Linked DNA regions of Homo sapiens: region 1 is linked to region 2. Evidence: fine-mapped QTL for protein levels in blood plasma. A gene starts in region 2. The other region holds a variant in brackets. All regions are shown on one strand. Distances are between the middles of the regions.

The links. A credible set is the group of variants that fine-mapping cannot tell apart. PIP is the posterior inclusion probability: the model's chance that the variant is causal. Protein levels are from antibody-based Olink assays in UK Biobank. Linkage for the fine-mapping came from a reference panel and not from the study's own genotypes, which makes the PIPs less certain.
Region 1: its variant is the best candidate, but not a certain one, in a credible set for the plasma level of the GUCA2A protein (UK Biobank, PIP 0.62).

Annotation. Positions count from the first base shown.
Region 1 is chr1:41,931,822-41,940,394 of GRCh38, reverse strand. It overlaps a transcript of HIVEP3 not described here. Among named protein-coding and RNA genes, the nearest start is that of HIVEP3, 17 kb to the right of the region's middle. The variant A/G (reference allele first, on the strand shown) is at 4,538.
Region 2 is chr1:42,159,352-42,167,924 of GRCh38, reverse strand. It overlaps GUCA2A (guanylate cyclase activator 2A), which reads left to right and starts at 3,180. Exons shown (of 3, transcript NM_033553.3): 1 at 3,180-3,287; 2 at 4,315-4,522; 3 at 4,955-5,235. The coding sequence starts at 3,213. The coding sequence ends at 5,019. RefSeq lists an enhancer at 2,356-3,320.

The DNA.
Region 1 (8,573 bases), 230 kb after region 2:
TTAAAGAGGGTGCATAAGAAAAATGCCTGGCACAGTGTTGGGCACCTAGTGGGCATTTGGGGTTTTTGGTTAACTAATTGAATGTTAGCAATCTGTAGATTTCTGATATGACAAATAACTTAATGACTCACTCATCATTTAGGAATATTCTGAAGTACCTATATTTTTTAAAATTCAGCTCAATTGTATATTTCATTAGAAGTAGAAATATGAGGCAGAGAATGTCAGGGTATCAGAAAAATATGATTGAATATTTAGTGACTTCTGAGATAAATGCTGTTAAGAATAAAACAAAGTATTTTACATTAATGTGAGGTATCTTTTAGGTATCATTCAAAAATCATTTTGTAATTAATATTGCTAAATGAAAATACTAATAGCCTAAGGCTAGGTGCCTCAGACTAAAGTAAAATAATCAATAATGTGATCAAATTATCAATAATGAAAATATATTAATAATGAGAATTGAAAAATGGGAAATAAAAAATAAAGAAAAAGAAAAAAAGAAAAATGGGAAATAAAAACAATGATTTGGAGAGGGAAGACATATATTTAGCTTAATAACCTTAATAACTCAGGCAAGTACTGAGTCTTGGTTTTCTTAGGTCTGAAACAAGAAGATTGGATTTAGTTATCTCTAAGTTCTTTTCCAGCTATAAAATCTTTGTATTTATGTAATAAATAAAGGGCTGCTAGTTCTATGATCCTGATGTTTACTTTTTCAATGCATGTTTGATTCTGTTCAGAGAAAATACCTGGTAAGCCCTAATGGAAACCATCTGTTAGAAAAAGAAGGAGACAGAATCGTGGAGCTCTGTTGACTTCCCTCGTCTTACCAGCAAAGAGAAGAGGTGTAGTAATTCTTAAAAAGGAAGAAAGAAGAGAGATCAAAGTGGGAGAAGGAAAAATAAAAAGAAAAAGGACTAAGCACTTTCTTCTTTCCTCTGAGAGACTGCGGTGGCTCTCCCACCTTTCCGGAGACTCGTCAGCACCTGCCTGGTGGACAGCACCACATCTTTAAATTCTAAGGTTCTAACCCCTTTATTCCCAAATTCTGGAGTTCACTAACAAAGTGGTTTTCATTCTTTAAAAAATGAAATGAAACCAAAGAGGGACACACAGAGGGCTTCCAAAATAAAATGCTAGATCTTAAATTGGGTGCTTGGTTTATGAATTATTTTGTATTGATCAACTTTCCATTATAAAATAAATGAATTAAAAATATATATCACAATAAAACAAAAAGAAGAGCCATTCTCATTTAAAGAGAGGCCTTATCTCCAGAGAAATAATTAGAGGCTATCATCTATCAATCCTAAAGGGTTTTAGTAAAAACCGTTACTGCTGCCTCCGAGGTATAAGGTAAGCTGAGGTAAGCAAGCAGGGTAGTGGCAAAGATCATGTGTGAGAACAAGAATGTGAAGAGGAAAATAGAAGGGATCTAGATATTCGATGAAGTCCAGAAAGGCTGGCTTTGATATGAACAGCAGCATTTCAATCAGCCTCATGAGAAGCTCCACAATGCAGAAGTCAAAGAATGTGATCTTGCCTTTGAGCAGAGTCTGATGAAAATTCCTAGAGTAGGACTCAGATTCCCCCATAGTTTTGTATTTAGGTTATGAGAATGAGACTAAGAACCAGATTGTCACTAACAGAAAGCAAAATCTCAGCATAATTTTCATTGTGTGGAGTTCAGAAATGCATTTGAACTGCAGGCTTCATCATTTGTATCTCTGACCATTTGCTTTTATGCCTGGAGGAAGGTCCAGGCAGCCACTAACTGCTCAAATCCTTCCATTCTGGACTTGCTCTTCCTCTGTCAGTTCTCATCCTTACTTTCTTTTTGAGTGTTCTAGATGGCATTAATCAACATTCATCAGTGGTTTGGTTACACTGAATTATCTTAGTTCCCTTCCCCCATTACTTCATCTTCCCCTGACCTTCCTCCTTCTCCTGGACTCATTAACACTCATTCCTGGCATTCAGTAGATGTTGATTGAGCATTTACTATGTGTTAGTTACTGTTCCAGGTGCTGGGGACAAATGGGTGAACCACATATACATGGCTTCTGCATTGATGCACGGTATGGTATGGTGGGGAAGGAGAAGGTAGATGTTAAACAGCCTTCTACAGAGGTTAATACATATTTTGGTCCATGCCATATAGGGGAGATGTGGTGCTATGAGAGACAATATCAGGGGTGACCTACTCAAAATAGAGTGGTCAGGAAACTCAGCTCTGAGGAGATGGCATTTAAATTGCGTCCTGAGTAATGAGAGGGAACCAGGCAAGTGAAAGAGAGGAAAGCGTGTTCCATGCAGAAAGTAAAGTATGTGCAAAGGCCAGGAGAAGAAGACTTTGGCACTGGAAGACCTTAAAGAAAGCTGGTGACACACCCCAGACACATACAGTGGTGTTAACAGATAAAAACAATGGTTGATTTGTCCACATATAGAATACTTTGTGCAGATCTGGGCACACTACTCTTAAGGTGCTGGCATGAACAAGTGCTCATGATTGGTTGTTCAGTCTTGAATGTATGGCATGACTCTACATATACAATGCACCAGTTAGGATTCTCAGTTGCAAGTGCTAGAATGTCCAATCAGAACTTTCTTAAGCAAAATAGATATTATTAGTTGACATATCTGAAAAGTCCATGACCAGGGATACCCTCAGGCCTGGCTGTACCAATGGTTCAATGTTTTAGACTGGCATTGTCCACTAGAGAGAAAATATGAGCCATATGCATCATCACTTCAACATGTAATCAAAATAAAAATTATTGGTGAGATATTTTACATTCCTTTTTCCTTCTGAGTCTTTGAGATGCAGTGTGCCTTTTGTACTTACATCACATTTCTGTACTGGTCACATTTCAAGTGTTCAATAGCTACATATGGCTAGTGGCTACCATTTTGGATAGTGCAGGTCAAGGCCTTCGATCCTCTCAGTTTCAATTTGATAAGTACCTAGATTGTCTTCCTAGAAGTCTGAGCAAAAGTTTCTTTGTGTCTCACTGGCTCTAAAAGAGTCCTGTGACCACCTTGAACCAACATCATGACCAGGAAGAAAGTGTTGTGCCCAGCAGTTTAGAACCAAATTGCATGCTGTACCCCAGGACTGCAGGAGAGGGGTAGGCTCCATGTGAACTCTGTGTATAGAATATATATTTATTATTTTTGGCCACCCAGTATCCATTTGTCTGACTTTGGATAATAATGTTGGGGGATCAGTTCTCCCCACATAAAGAGGACTGGAAAGAAGACTGTTAATGGAGGTTATCTCTGGAAAGAATGATTCCAGGTATTATAAATGGTACCACTTTTATTTTCTGTTTTATAAATTTCAGTTTTTAGTTTATTGCTACTAGCATGCACTGTTTTATTTTTATTTATGATTTTAATGAAGAATATAAACATAGCTTTCTTTGTTGTAAAAAGGTTAGGACCAAATAGGGAGAATGATCTAATACTGGGGTGACCAAATGGTTTTCCTAGGACAGCCCTGGCTTATACCAGTGATTATAGTGTAATTATTAATAGAAATCCCTTTACCTCCAGTGTGTCCCATCATAAGAGCATATGGTCATCCAGTATAATAATACTTTAAAACCATCATGGGTACTGATATGGTTAATTCAGACTCCACAAATACCTTGAGATAACAGAATGATTTGATAGATATACCTTGAACCCCAATAAAAGACAGAGTAGTCACACTTTGTATTTGTGCATCATCAGGAAATGAGGCATTCCAAGAGTTAATTTTTCTAACTGAAGCTTGCCCTCTAAGCATCAAAATGTTTTAACATTTAACTACTTTTGATGGAAATATTACTCTGTGATATTTTATATTTTCCCACCTTCTTAAGTGGAGTAGACCAAACATAATGGAACTACTTCTTGTTGACACAAGTTATTGCAGAGCTTTCCACCTGGTGGACAAAAGCTCAGTGGTGTGTTGTGAATGGATTACAGGTGTGTGGAAATATGATCCCTCCATCTCCACCTCTCAGGGAAGCCAGGCCGGGCTTGAGGGGTGACAGAAGCCCCTGGATCAGTTGCCTCTTGCTGAGTCATCTGAATAGATTCATTTTCTGTGTGCATCTTGACTCGCACATGAGTCATCTGAATAGATTGATTTTCTGTGTGCATCTTGACTTGCAATAGGTTGGGAAGCATTAGTTACTGCTTTGTATTATAGTTCAGAGATTCTGGCAGGTGACCCTCCATCTTGGGGTTACAGAGGGTGATTTACATTTACCCTTGAACTGAATTTCCCTGAATTGACTACTTCTCCTTGTTCTTTGTAGCACTCTTCCTTTTTACTTGCAGGCAATTGCCATTGCTTGTTACTGTCTTTCCTATGTAGTCTGCTATCTTATTTTACACAGGTTTGTTTAGGTTAGGTGAAATATACTTGAGTATAGCTCGACTCCCCTAACTGAAGATTTAGTGGTAGCTGTTCACATTGTTGTCTTTGAAACTCATTGCTGTGCTGTTGCTATGCTCCAGGTATCTAAGATGATCTTAG[A/G]ATATCACATTATGTTTCCTCATTAGAGATGGTAGAAATCTTATAGAGGGCTCTTTATTCTTAGAGTTAGTTGTAGTTTATTTTATATATATTATATATATAAAATATATATAATATATAATATAAATATATATATAATTTCAAGAAGACTAAATTGCTAGATAATACAGGATTACAGGAAAGAAAAGAATATTTTACACAAACACACATATTTACATACATATATATGTATACAGAGAGAGAGTGAGAGAGACATTTAAAAAACATGGAGGACAGTTATGCCCTCTTTGCAAACCAATCTCAGAAAGGTCAGTTGTCATGTTCACTCAACAAATAGTCCCTTGTTGCCATTCTGAAACTGAATGCCCTTGTGGCTGGACAACTGGACTCAGCTAATAAGGCATTTCTGATGCTTTTGTGTTCTTATGCAAGGATGGACCTTTTCCAGCATTGTAAATGACAGCAGGAAATACTCAATGGGCCACAGGAAATAATTAACATCATCTGGGATAGTCTGACTCAGAAGTTAAAAGTAAGGACTTTAAAATCTGACCTGGGAATTAATTCTAGTTCTAACATATGTTAATTCTGTGGATTTGACGAGTTTCTTAGTCCCTCTGAGTCCCACTTCTCTCACTGAGTTGTTGTGAAGGTGAAATGAGAACATGTTTGCTATTAGCTAAGCATAGTCTTTGGCTAGTAGTGAGTGGTCACTAAATTGTAGTTGTTTCATTATCATTTTTAATAATAATAATATATGGAGTAGTTAATGATTAATGACAAGACTTACCTTTGGGGAAACTAGAATAAATAATAAAACATAAGTATAATGTTTTTGTCATTAGCCTAATTTTGAGTAATTAGTTGCCTGTCATATTTCTCACTAAATGGTGACATGTATGAACAATTCTGAAATTAAGTGGACTAGAAAGCCTCTAGAGTTATTTTATTCTTCACCATCCATGGTGTTTACTATGTGGCATCATATTCTTTGCCAGGCAATTGCAGGCTGGTAGATGCTTTCAACAAGACAGTTGTCCTGAATTATAACTGACTGATAGTTTATACAGATTCTGCCCTCCACTTTTTGAAAAATTGGTACATTATTTGTACTTTACTTAACTCCTATAGGATTTTCCCCGTATATCTTACATTTCTCAAAAACAACAGATAGAGGTGTTTTTGGAACATCTGTCATTCCTAAAGCTCTTTAAGCAAGTTTCCAAGAGAATAGTGATTACCCTGACCAACTGCTGTACCTTCTTCTGTTTGCTGTTGCAAAAGATGCAAAAGTACCTATAAGAAGGTAGACTTCTAGTTTCTTCTCAAAGATGTAGACAGCTGGGAAGGATTGTTCCTAAACTTATGGTGAAAAAAAATCTTTACGAATAGAAAGTTCACAACTTTTCTTGAGCTCACTGGAGTCCTAAGGTTGCTGGGTACCCAGTAGGCCCAAAATCGAGGAAGAGATAGGTATCTTCAGGGAGAAATGAGATATGAGCTCTGACTTACCTAAGCAAGAAACATACCTATATGAATTCAGCTAAGGTGGTTGTTGAATATGCAGAATCTGGCTTAATGAACTCTAGTAGAAGCGGGCAAAGCCCTAGGGATAATAAATAAAAGGAGATCACACTTTCTTTCTTAGACTCATTTCTCCATGAACCCCATCACAGGTTCACAAAAATGGTTGGGAGAGTCTACAGAAAATCTCCCTTGTAGTGAATTGCTGGAGGAGAGGAAAAGAAACTGCTGTGAGAGGGGTGAGAAATTCTACCTGGACCCTTCTTGCCTACCTCCCCTATGAACAAAAGCCTTAATTAGTGTGACATGTATGTAGAAGGGAGCAAACATTATCACTCTTTGGATACTGGTGAAATCCCATTACATCTGAGATAAGGGAACAGGGAAAAAAATCTTAACACCTAGGGAAAGGATGGATATACATTCTGGATTCAGAAGTGAAGCAGGGGAGGGATGGGATCACTGGGAAGGCTGCTGCTTCAGGACTCAGTGATATAGTGCTTGCCTAAGACTACAGCTTAATCAGAACAATAGAAACCATTTCCTCCACACACCCCCAAACCAGGCTAACGAGAGAAGTCAGAAAAATAAAAGAAAAGAAGAAAAAAACAGAAGGAACAAAAAAACAGCTAGCAAAATAGATTTTAATTTGACCATATCTATAATCACATTAAATGTGAATGGTCTAAACATACCAGTTAAAAGATGGAGATTGTCAGATTGTATGAAAAATTAAGAACCAGCTATACACTTTCTGTAAGAAACCCACTTTAGTTATAAAGACAGATAGGTTAAAAGTAATAGAATAGAAAAAGATATGCTGTGCAAACACTAATCAAAATAAAGCTGAAGTCTTTATATTACTATCAGACAAGTGAGACTTTTAGAACAATGATTATTATCTGGGATAAAAAGGAACATCAAATAATTATAAAGGGCTTGATTTTCCAAGAAGACATAACAATGCTAAACATGTACGTACCTAACAACAGAGTTTCAAAATACATGATGCAAAAGCTGATAGAATCAAAAAGTGAAATAGATAGTTTCACAATTACAGTTGAAAACTTCAGTGCTCCTTTTTCAGTAAATGATAGAACAAATGGAAAGAAAATCATCAAAAATATAGATGACTGGAGCAACATTATCAACCAACTTGACCCAGTTGATATTTATAGTATACTTTACATGACAACACTTCTTTCTAAAGTGCACATGAAACATTCTCCAAATGATACTATGTTCTGGGCCATAAAGCAAACTTAACAACCTTAAAAGACTAGAAACCATAGAAAGCATGGTCATGAACTATAATGGAATTAAGCCAGAAATCAATAATAGAAATATAAGTGGAAAATCTTCAAATGTATGGAGATGAAACAACACATATCTAAATAAACCATATGTCAGAGGAAGTCTTAAGGCAATTAAAAAAGCGTTTTGAACTGAATGAAAAAGAACTACAACATATCACAATTTGGGAAATGAAGCTAAAGTAGTGTATAGATGGAAATTTATAGAGTTAAATGCTTACACTACAAAAGAGGAAAGGTCTTCAATCAGTAAGGTAAGCATCCACCCTAAAAAGAAAAAAACTAGATAAAGAAGAACAAATTAAAACTAGTGCAAGCAGAAGGAAGAACATAATAAGAGCAAAAATCAATACATTTGAAACAAAAAAGCAATTTGGATATATCAATCAAACCAAAAGCTGGTTCTTTGAAAGATCAGCAAAATTAGTGAACTTCTAGGCAGACTGACCAAGAAAAAAGAAGATACAAATTATCAATATCAGAAATGAAAGAAGGGACATCACTGCTGACCCTACAGATATTAAAAGAATAATAAGGTAGTGCAACAAACAACTCTGTGCCCATAAATTTGACAACTTAGGTGAAATGAATCAATTCCTCGAAGGACAGACATACTAAAATTCATTCAAGAAGAAATATTATATCTTCAATAATCCCATATCTTCTAGGGAAATTGAAGTTATAGTTAAAAGCCTTCCAAAAACAAACAAACAAACAAAAAAACAAAACAAAAAAATGCAAGGCTAGTTCAACACTGGAAAAATCAACCAATGAAATTAAAATTAAATATATTTACAGAACCAAGGAAAAGAAAAACGATGATTATTTCAATAGATTTACAAAAAGCACTTTAAAAATTAATCATCTATTCATGATTAAAACTATCTGCAAACTATGAATAGAAGGCAATTTTCTTAACCTCAAAAAGGGCATCTACAAAAGGCTATAGCTAGCAACACACTTACTGGTGAAAAACTAAACACTTTCCCCTTAAGATAAAAAACAATGCAAGATGTTCTCTCTTATGACTCCTATCTGACTTCATATGGAAAGTCCTATAGTACAATAAGGCAAGAAAAAAAAAGGCAAAAAGATTTAAAAGGAAGAAAGGAAACAATGTCTTTTCACGTGTAACTTTATTGTCTTTGTAGAAAAACCCGAAGGATCATTAAAAAGTTTCTAGGACTAATAAGTGAGTT
Region 2 (8,573 bases):
GGTCTCCGCAAGCCCCGGCTCCAGTCTAGCATGGAGCTCAGCCGCACTCCCGAACTTCTCCCGGTGTTCATCCCCACCCCAGCCTCCGAAACTCCTGCCCCTCACCTTTCCCCCAGCTCCATCCCCCGACATCCTGTTGCTCAGCATCCAAGTCCCACGCCCCGACCCTCAGCCCCATTCCTTCCCCTAACCCCACTCACTCCCACGCCCACTCCCACCTGCCCTCAGCGAGGGGACCAGTGTGTGGCTGACCTTGGTGGGCACACACACATGTCCAGGCACGCACACACACCTCAGTGTATACACACACGTCAGCACACACACACGTCAGTGCACACACACACGTCAGCACTCACACACACCTCAGTGTATACACACACGTCAGCACTCACGCACACCTCAGTGTATACACACACTTCAGCACACACGCACCTCAGTGTATACACACACGTCAGCACACACACACCTCAGCACACACACAGTGTATACACACGTCAGCACACACACCTCAGTGTATACACACACGTCAGCGCACACACACCTCAGTGTATACACACACGTCAGCACTCACACACCTCAGCACATACACGCACCTCAGTGTATACACACATGTCAGCACACACACACCTCAGCACACACACGCACCTCAGTGTATACACACACATCAGCGCACACATACCTCAGCACACACACGCTCCTCAGTGTATACACACATGTCAGCACTCACACACACCTCAGTGTATACACACACATCAGCACACACACAGCTCAGCACACACACACACCTCAGCACACACACAGTGTATACACACGTCAGCACACACACCTCAGTGTATACACACACGTCAGCGCACACACACCTCAGTGTATACACACACGTCAGCACTCACACACCTCAGCACATACACGCACCTCAGTGTATACACACATGTCAGCACACACACACCTCAGCACACACACGCACCTCAGTGTATACACACACATCAGCGCACACATACCTCAGCACACACACGCTCCTCAGTGTATACACACACATCAGCACTCACACACACCTCAGTGTATACACACACATCAGCACACACACAGCTCAGCACACACACACACCTCAGCACACACACACACCTCAGTGTATACACACACGTCAGCACACACACACCTCAGCACACATACGCACCTCAGCACACATACGCACCTCAGTGTATACACACACGTCAGCACTCACACACGTCAGCACACACACACCTCAGCGCATACATGCACCTCAGTGTATACACACACCTCGGCACACACACGCACAACACAGCAGATGCACTCAGCTCAGCATACACACACACACCTCAGTGCACATACACACACATATCTCAGTGCATATACACACATGAGCATACACACACACATACCTCAGTGCACATACACACACCCCAGCAGACACCCCAGCAGACACACATCCCAGCAAACACACACACCTCGGTGTACACACACGCGCCTGTGTATATACACACTGACACACACACACCTCGATGTATATATGCACACCTCCTTGCACAGACACAGATACCTTGGTGTACACGGACACACATATACCCCTCAGCATACACACACATACACCTCAGCATATATACACATACACTCCTCAGTGTACACACATGCCTCAGCACACACACACCTTCAGCACAAGCACACATACAAACACACCTTGGCTACACACACCCATCAGGGTATATACAGACACCTTGGCATACACAGACATACACATCTCCGCAGACACACCCCCCCTTAACACACACACACACACACACACACACACACTCACCAGAAAGGGGTGGGAAATCCAGTGCAGCTGTGAGGACTGCCCTGGGAGCTGGGCCAGGAGCTACCTGCCCCTCCCTGAGGGCCTTGTCCCTGCAGTTCCCTCCTGGTCAGGCCCTGCTCTCTCCAATTCCCTCTTCAGTGTTGACTCTCCCCACCCAGGAATTCCTGCCCAACCTCCCGCCCTAGGGCTGTCCTGGCATCGGGCCAGGTTGGCTGAGTAGAAAGATGACAATCCCAGGGCTACCCTTTCTCCTGTGTCCTGGGGATTCCTGCTCACAACAGCACACAGTGAATGCACGCTGCCCTGAGGGCGCAGTCTGAATGGGGTCAGAGTCTATAGGGGCGCGGGCACACCCAAGCAATTCCCCAGTGAGATCCGCGGAAAGGGGACTGTATCTGCAGGGGCAAGGGGGGCGGGCGGATTGGGGAGGAGCTCATTCGAGGACACCCTGAGGCTGCAGGGCAGGCAGGACAGGATGGGGACCAGCACAGGATGGGGACAGCCTGTGACTCAGACAGGCAGGAGGTCACCAGAGGGGCCAGGGAGGACCAGGAGCTGCTGTGGCTGCTAATAATATGGGAATGGACCTCTGCTGAGCACCTTCTGTGTGCCAGGCATTGAGCTAAATGTTTTTAAAACCTCACTTGATTCTCCAAACAGTAATGCCTACCACACACCTACCCCATGAGGTAGGTATTATTTTTGGTTCCCACAGGGGACACAAGGGACAACGAGACTCAGAGAGGGGAAAGCATTGGCCCAAGTTCACACGCCTCACAACTGGGCAGTAGGTGGAACGGAACCCAGGCTGTGCGGAGGGCTTCCTTGAGGTCGCGGCAATCAAACCCAGACCCTGACTTGCCCTGCAGCCTCCCCCGTGGAATTTCTCACATTTCCCTGAATATTCCAGGCCCGTCTCACCTCCTGGCTGTCCCTTTGGCATGAAATGGCCTTCTGTCCTCAGTCCCTTCTCTGGGAAAACTTCCACCCATTCTCCAGAGCTCAGCCCCCAGTGCAGCCCCGTCACCTCATCCTAGGATCACCCCACCCTAATCGCCCTGCGTTTCACTGTCGGGCTGGGCCCCCCTCCTCAAGGGCAGGGTCTGCCGGCCCCACACAGCAGCACAGGGCAGTCGTGAGTGAATGTGCCTTGTTGGTGAATGAATGCAGGACCCAGCCCGGCTGTGGGTCAAAGTAGGTGCTCAGGGAGGGGCCGGGGCCCCCCCTGCCTGGCTCTTATCTCCTAGGGCTGTCTCGAGCCTTATCTGATAAGGCCTGACAGGTGAGCAGATGAGACTGACAGAGGCTTCCAGGTTACTCAGTAACCTGCCCTCTTTAAAAGTCCCGCCGCTTCCCCCTGGCATCCAGAACAGCCACCCCTCTCTCGGGCACTGCTGCCATGAATGCCTTCCTGCTCTCCGCACTGTGCCTCCTTGGGGCCTGGGCCGCCTTGGCAGGAGGGGTCACCGTGCAGGTGAGTCCTGTGTCCCTACCCCGGCCCAGCTGGCTCCCTGCCCCTAGTGCCCAGGTCTGGTCCCCTGAGAGAGTACCTCCTCTTTGGGGCTGGATTGAGGGTGTGTGTCCCAGGCTTGGCCTTCTTCGAGGAGCTCCTGCTCAGTCCAGCCACACACACACCTTTCCCTTCAACTTTGGAGGAGAAAGAAACCCAGTGGAGGGAAGAGGAATAACCATATGGGGAAGGCGGGGAGTTGGCCAATTTACTGAGTGTCCTATGTGCCGGCTCCTTCCCCAGCCCCTCACTGTGGCTCCACTATCAACCTGGAAGAAAGGGATCATTAGTCCCATTTTACAGAGGGGAAAACTGAGCCTCACAAAGGTTCTGTAACAGGCCATGGGCACATGGCTGTGGGAAGTGCAGGAGCTGGATTTAAATCCAGACCTTACTCCTCAGTGGGTCCCAGGAACCACATGGACACCCTGGAGGTCCTGACAGATGGGTATGCCTACCAGTGCCAATGCTGGCGACAGGCCAAGCTGGCACCTAGCGGGGGCCCTGATCTCTATCAAAGCCAGATTCCGGGAGGCCTTTTATTGCTTCTCAAACCAAAACCAGGCTGCAGGCTGGAGCTGGGGGCCCAGTAATCAGCCGCACCGCTCTCAGGCAGGGGAAAGACAGCCTGGGCTTGGCCACGTGGAACTACGATGCCTGGGTGCTGGTCCTTTGCCTCTCCCTAAAAATCAGCACACTGGCTCCTACTCATTAGGCACCTATGGTGTTCCTGGAGCTTCACACCCATTTTCTCCATTCCCCATACAACATGCAGAATTTGCGGGTTCCAGAGTGTCCAGCATCACGGAGCCAAGCCAGGACGTGGGGCCTGAACTCTGCCCCTCACAGTGCCCCACTGTGGATCGCCTGGCTCCCATATGCCACGAACACTGCCTGTGAGCACCACTGGGCTGGACCGGGGCCAGCACGGGGGGCACAGCCAGGAAGCAGGCTGCAGCCTGGCCTCATGCTCTGGGCTTCTCTCTTCCAGGATGGAAATTTCTCCTTTTCTCTGGAGTCAGTGAAGAAGCTCAAAGACCTCCAGGAGCCCCAGGAGCCCAGGGTTGGGAAACTCAGGAACTTTGCACCCATCCCTGGTGAACCTGTGGTTCCCATCCTCTGTAGCAACCCGAACTTTCCAGAAGAACTCAAGCCTCTCTGCAAGGAGCCCAATGCCCAGGAGATACTTCAGAGGCTGGGTGAGCAGCCTCCTTCCTCTCTGATTGGTGGGGTTCGGGAATACTGTGGTGGCACTTGAGGAAGAGATGTGCTCTGATTGGTGGGATTTGGAGGAAGGGCTCAGCTCTGACTGGTGGAACTAGGGAGCTTGGCTCTGATTGGTGGGTCTGTTCCATGCCCACTTCAATTCCAAGTTGTAACTGCTGAGGTTTGGGAACTAAGACCATTCATCTGGTCTTAGTTTCCTCTCTTTCTGGTGGAATCTCTGCTTTGATTGGTTGGTTTGAGTGGTCTGTGTGCCCTGGTTTGGGGCGAAAAGCCCAGTAGGTCAGAGTACGGGCCTGCTGAGATTCTCCTGGGGCTGGGTGGTGACGTACAAGCTCTGGGCCAAGGGCGGCAGGGGCCTCGCGAGGAAATGCTGGTTCTCACGAGGCTCCATCTCTGTTGTGCAGAGGAAATCGCTGAGGACCCGGGCACATGTGAAATCTGTGCCTACGCTGCCTGTACCGGATGCTAGGGGGGCTTGCCCACTGCCTGCCTCCCCTCCGCAGCAGGGAAGCTCTTTTCTCCTGCAGAAAGGGCCACCCATGATACTCCACTCCCAGCAGCTCAACCTACCCTGGTCCAGTCGGGAGGAGCAGCCCGGGGAGGAACTGGGTGACTGGAGGCCTCGCCCCAACACTGTCCTTCCCTGCCACTTCAACCCCCAGCTAATAAACCAGATTCCAGAGTACTCTGGGTGTTGCCTTCCTTCCTTCCTTCATCCCCTAGTCTATCCTGCCCTGGAAGCTCGGGATGTAATGTACTAAGCGAAGGACCCCACTCTCCCTGCTAAGCTGCTCACTGTCCCTGGGGCTGCCACAACACAGAGGCGTGGAGAGGATCTGGATCTCCAAACCACCAAGGCAGCGGGTGGTGGGGAGGGTTTGCTTTTATTTCACATCTCCTGAGGTCACCAAGTTCACTGAGCCACATGTGAGCACGGGAGCCAGTCTGAGCTGGTTTGGACAACCAATACAGGCACTTGGCCCACTAGAAGACTGGCACCAAACTCTTGGGTATTCAAGGACTTGGCTCCCACCAGCCATGCTAGTGTGGCCTCCAGCCCTGACCACATCCCAAACCACACCTCTTGCCATTTCCTCTGCTGCTGCTCACCTCTCCACTGCCCGTCTTCCCACACTACTGTCCAGGCAAACTCCTACTCAGGGTCCAAGGCTTTCATTCCACGGCCTCTCCTCAAGACAACTTGCTCAACCCCCCAGGAAGAGTCTCAGTGCTCCCATTGTGACCTTGACCTTGGTGCTTTCTGGGCACTGTGATCACCCACAACCCTTGCACAGCTGTGGCCACCCTGTTGTGTAATGGCTTCTGTGCCTGGGGAAGTCTCTCTGACCTCCAGACCCACATGGATAATTGCATGAGGATATAAAACAGGGCAGGGGCCCAGCCACAGCTTTTCCAAGTACTGTGTGATCTTTGGAAAGTCACCTTCCCTCTCTGTGCCTCCACCTCTTCCTCTATAAAACTGGGACACTAATATTTCCTGCCTCCCAGGCTGGGTGAAATAATGCATATAAAGCCCTCAGTTCAGGCCTGACACAAACGTAAGAGGAATTCAATAAGTGGTAAAACAAACTAGAGAAAAGGGGACCAGGATCAGGCTGAAAGTGGTTCAGACAGGGTGAGGAGGCAGGGTGTGGAAGTGAGGCCTATTAGCAAAGGTAGAGGGAACAAAAAAAAGAGGAGGCAGAACTCCCAAGGGTCCATCTTGAGGAGTGGGGTGGAGGGGAAGTGTCTCAAGGGGGATTCCATGGGCTTCAGAATTCAAAACATAAGGTCTCTTCTAGTTGAGATCAGTAAGGCTTTGTGAAAGGGGAAGGGCAAGTGCATTTGCATCACCCCTCGAGATTTGCACTGGGATGCAGGGAATTTCAAAACCAGTGTGGAAGTAGGGAGAAAGAGAGTGTTGCAGAAGGTGGGAATGGTGCAGACAGACACAAAGACATAGGAATGGTTCAGTCAGGACAGAGTGGAGCTTGGGAAGGCAGACAGGACTGAGTTTGAGCCTTACTGTGTCATTTACAAGCTGAGTGTCCCTCTCTGAGGCTTGGTTTCTCATCTGAAAGTGAGGATGATAACAGACCCTACCTCCCAAGGTTGGCGGGGGATTAAGTGAGATGTATGGTAGAGTAGAATCATTTAATGCCCTAACTCTGGAGCCAGACTCTTTGGGTATAAATCCTGGCTCTGTCTTTTACAGCTATGTGCCTTTAGGCAGGCTACCTAGCCTGTTCTCTCCTCAGTTTTCTCATCTGTAAAATGGGGAAGATAAGAATCCATATATCATAGGGTTGAGTGAAGAGTAAATGAAAAAATGCTGGAAAAATTTTTAAAACTCCCCTGGTTTTGAACAACCACTGGGTCAAATAAGAAATCAAAAGGGAAATTGAAAAGTATCTTGAGACAAGTGAAAACGAAAATACAGCATACAAAAGCTTATGGGGTGCAGCAAAAGCAGTTCAAAGAGGGAAATTTATAGCAATAAATGCCTACATCAAAAAAGAAGAAAGATTTCATATAAACAACCTATTGTTTTACCTCAAGGAACTAAAAAGAACAAACTAAGCCCAAAGTTAACGAAGAAAAGATCAGAGCAGAAATAACTGAAATAGAAACCAGAAAAACAATAGAAAAGATGAACAAAAGTAAGAGTTGGGTTTTTGAAAAGATAAATAAAATTGCAAAATCTTTAGCTAGACTAAGAAAAAGGGAGAATACTCAAAAGCATTGGAAGCTATCCCTTTAACATCAGGAACCAGACAAGGGTGCCCATTCTTGCCACTTTTATTCAACATAGTGCTGTACTGGAAGCCCTAACCAGAGCAATTAGGCAAGAAAAAAAATAAAAAAGCATCCAACTTGGAAAGGAAGAAGTTAAATTGTCTGTATTTGCAAATGACATCATCTTATGTATAGAAAACTCTAGAGACTCTACTAAAAAGCTATTAGAACTAATAAGCAAATTTAGTAAAGTTGCAGATTACAAAATCAACATACAAAAATCAGTAGCATTTCTATAATTAACAATGAATGATCTGAAAAAGAAATCAAGAAAACAAGCCCATTTAAACAGCAACAACAACAACACACATCTTAGGAATAAATTTAACCAATGATGGAAAAGAATCAAACACTAGAAAAACATAAAACATTGATGAAAGAAATTAAACAAGATACAAATAAATGGAAAGGTATTCCATATTCATGGATTGGAAGAATTAATATTTTTAAAGTGTTTATACTATCCAGAATGATCCACAGATTTAATGCAATCCCTATCAAAATTCCAATTACATTTTTTCACAGAAATAGGAAAAACAATCCTAAATTCCCCAAATAGCCAAAGCAATGTTGAGCAAAAAAGAAAAAGCTGGAAGCATCACACTACTTGATCTCAAAATCTACTACAGAGCTGTAGAACAGCATAGTACTGGCACAAAGCAGACAACGAGACTAATGGAACAGAATAGAGAGAGCCCAGAAATAAATCTACACATTTACAATCTGATCTTTGACAAAAGTGCCAAGATCACACAATGGGGAAAGGACAGTCTCTTCAATAAATGGTATTGGGACATGCAGAAAAATGAAATTAGACACTTATCTAACCTCATGTACAAAAATTAACTCAAAATGGATTAAAGTCTTAAGACCTGAAACTGTAAAGCTACTGGAAGAAGGCAGGAGCAGTGGTGAATGCCTGTAGTCCCAGCTACTCGGAAGCTTGAGGCAAGAGGATCACTGGAGCCCAGGAATTTGAGGCCAGCCTACACAACACAGTGAGACCCTGCCAAAAACAAACAAACAAACACCAAAACCCAAAACAAAACAAAGTAACAACAACAACAAAAAATGTACCAGAGGAAACATAGAGGAAAACTTCTTGACATTGGTCTTGGCAAAGATTTCTCGCCTATGATCCCAAAACCACAGGCAACAAAACCAAAAATAGACAAAAAGGAGTGCAGCAAATTAAACTGCTTCTGCACAGGTAAGGAATGAAAAGAA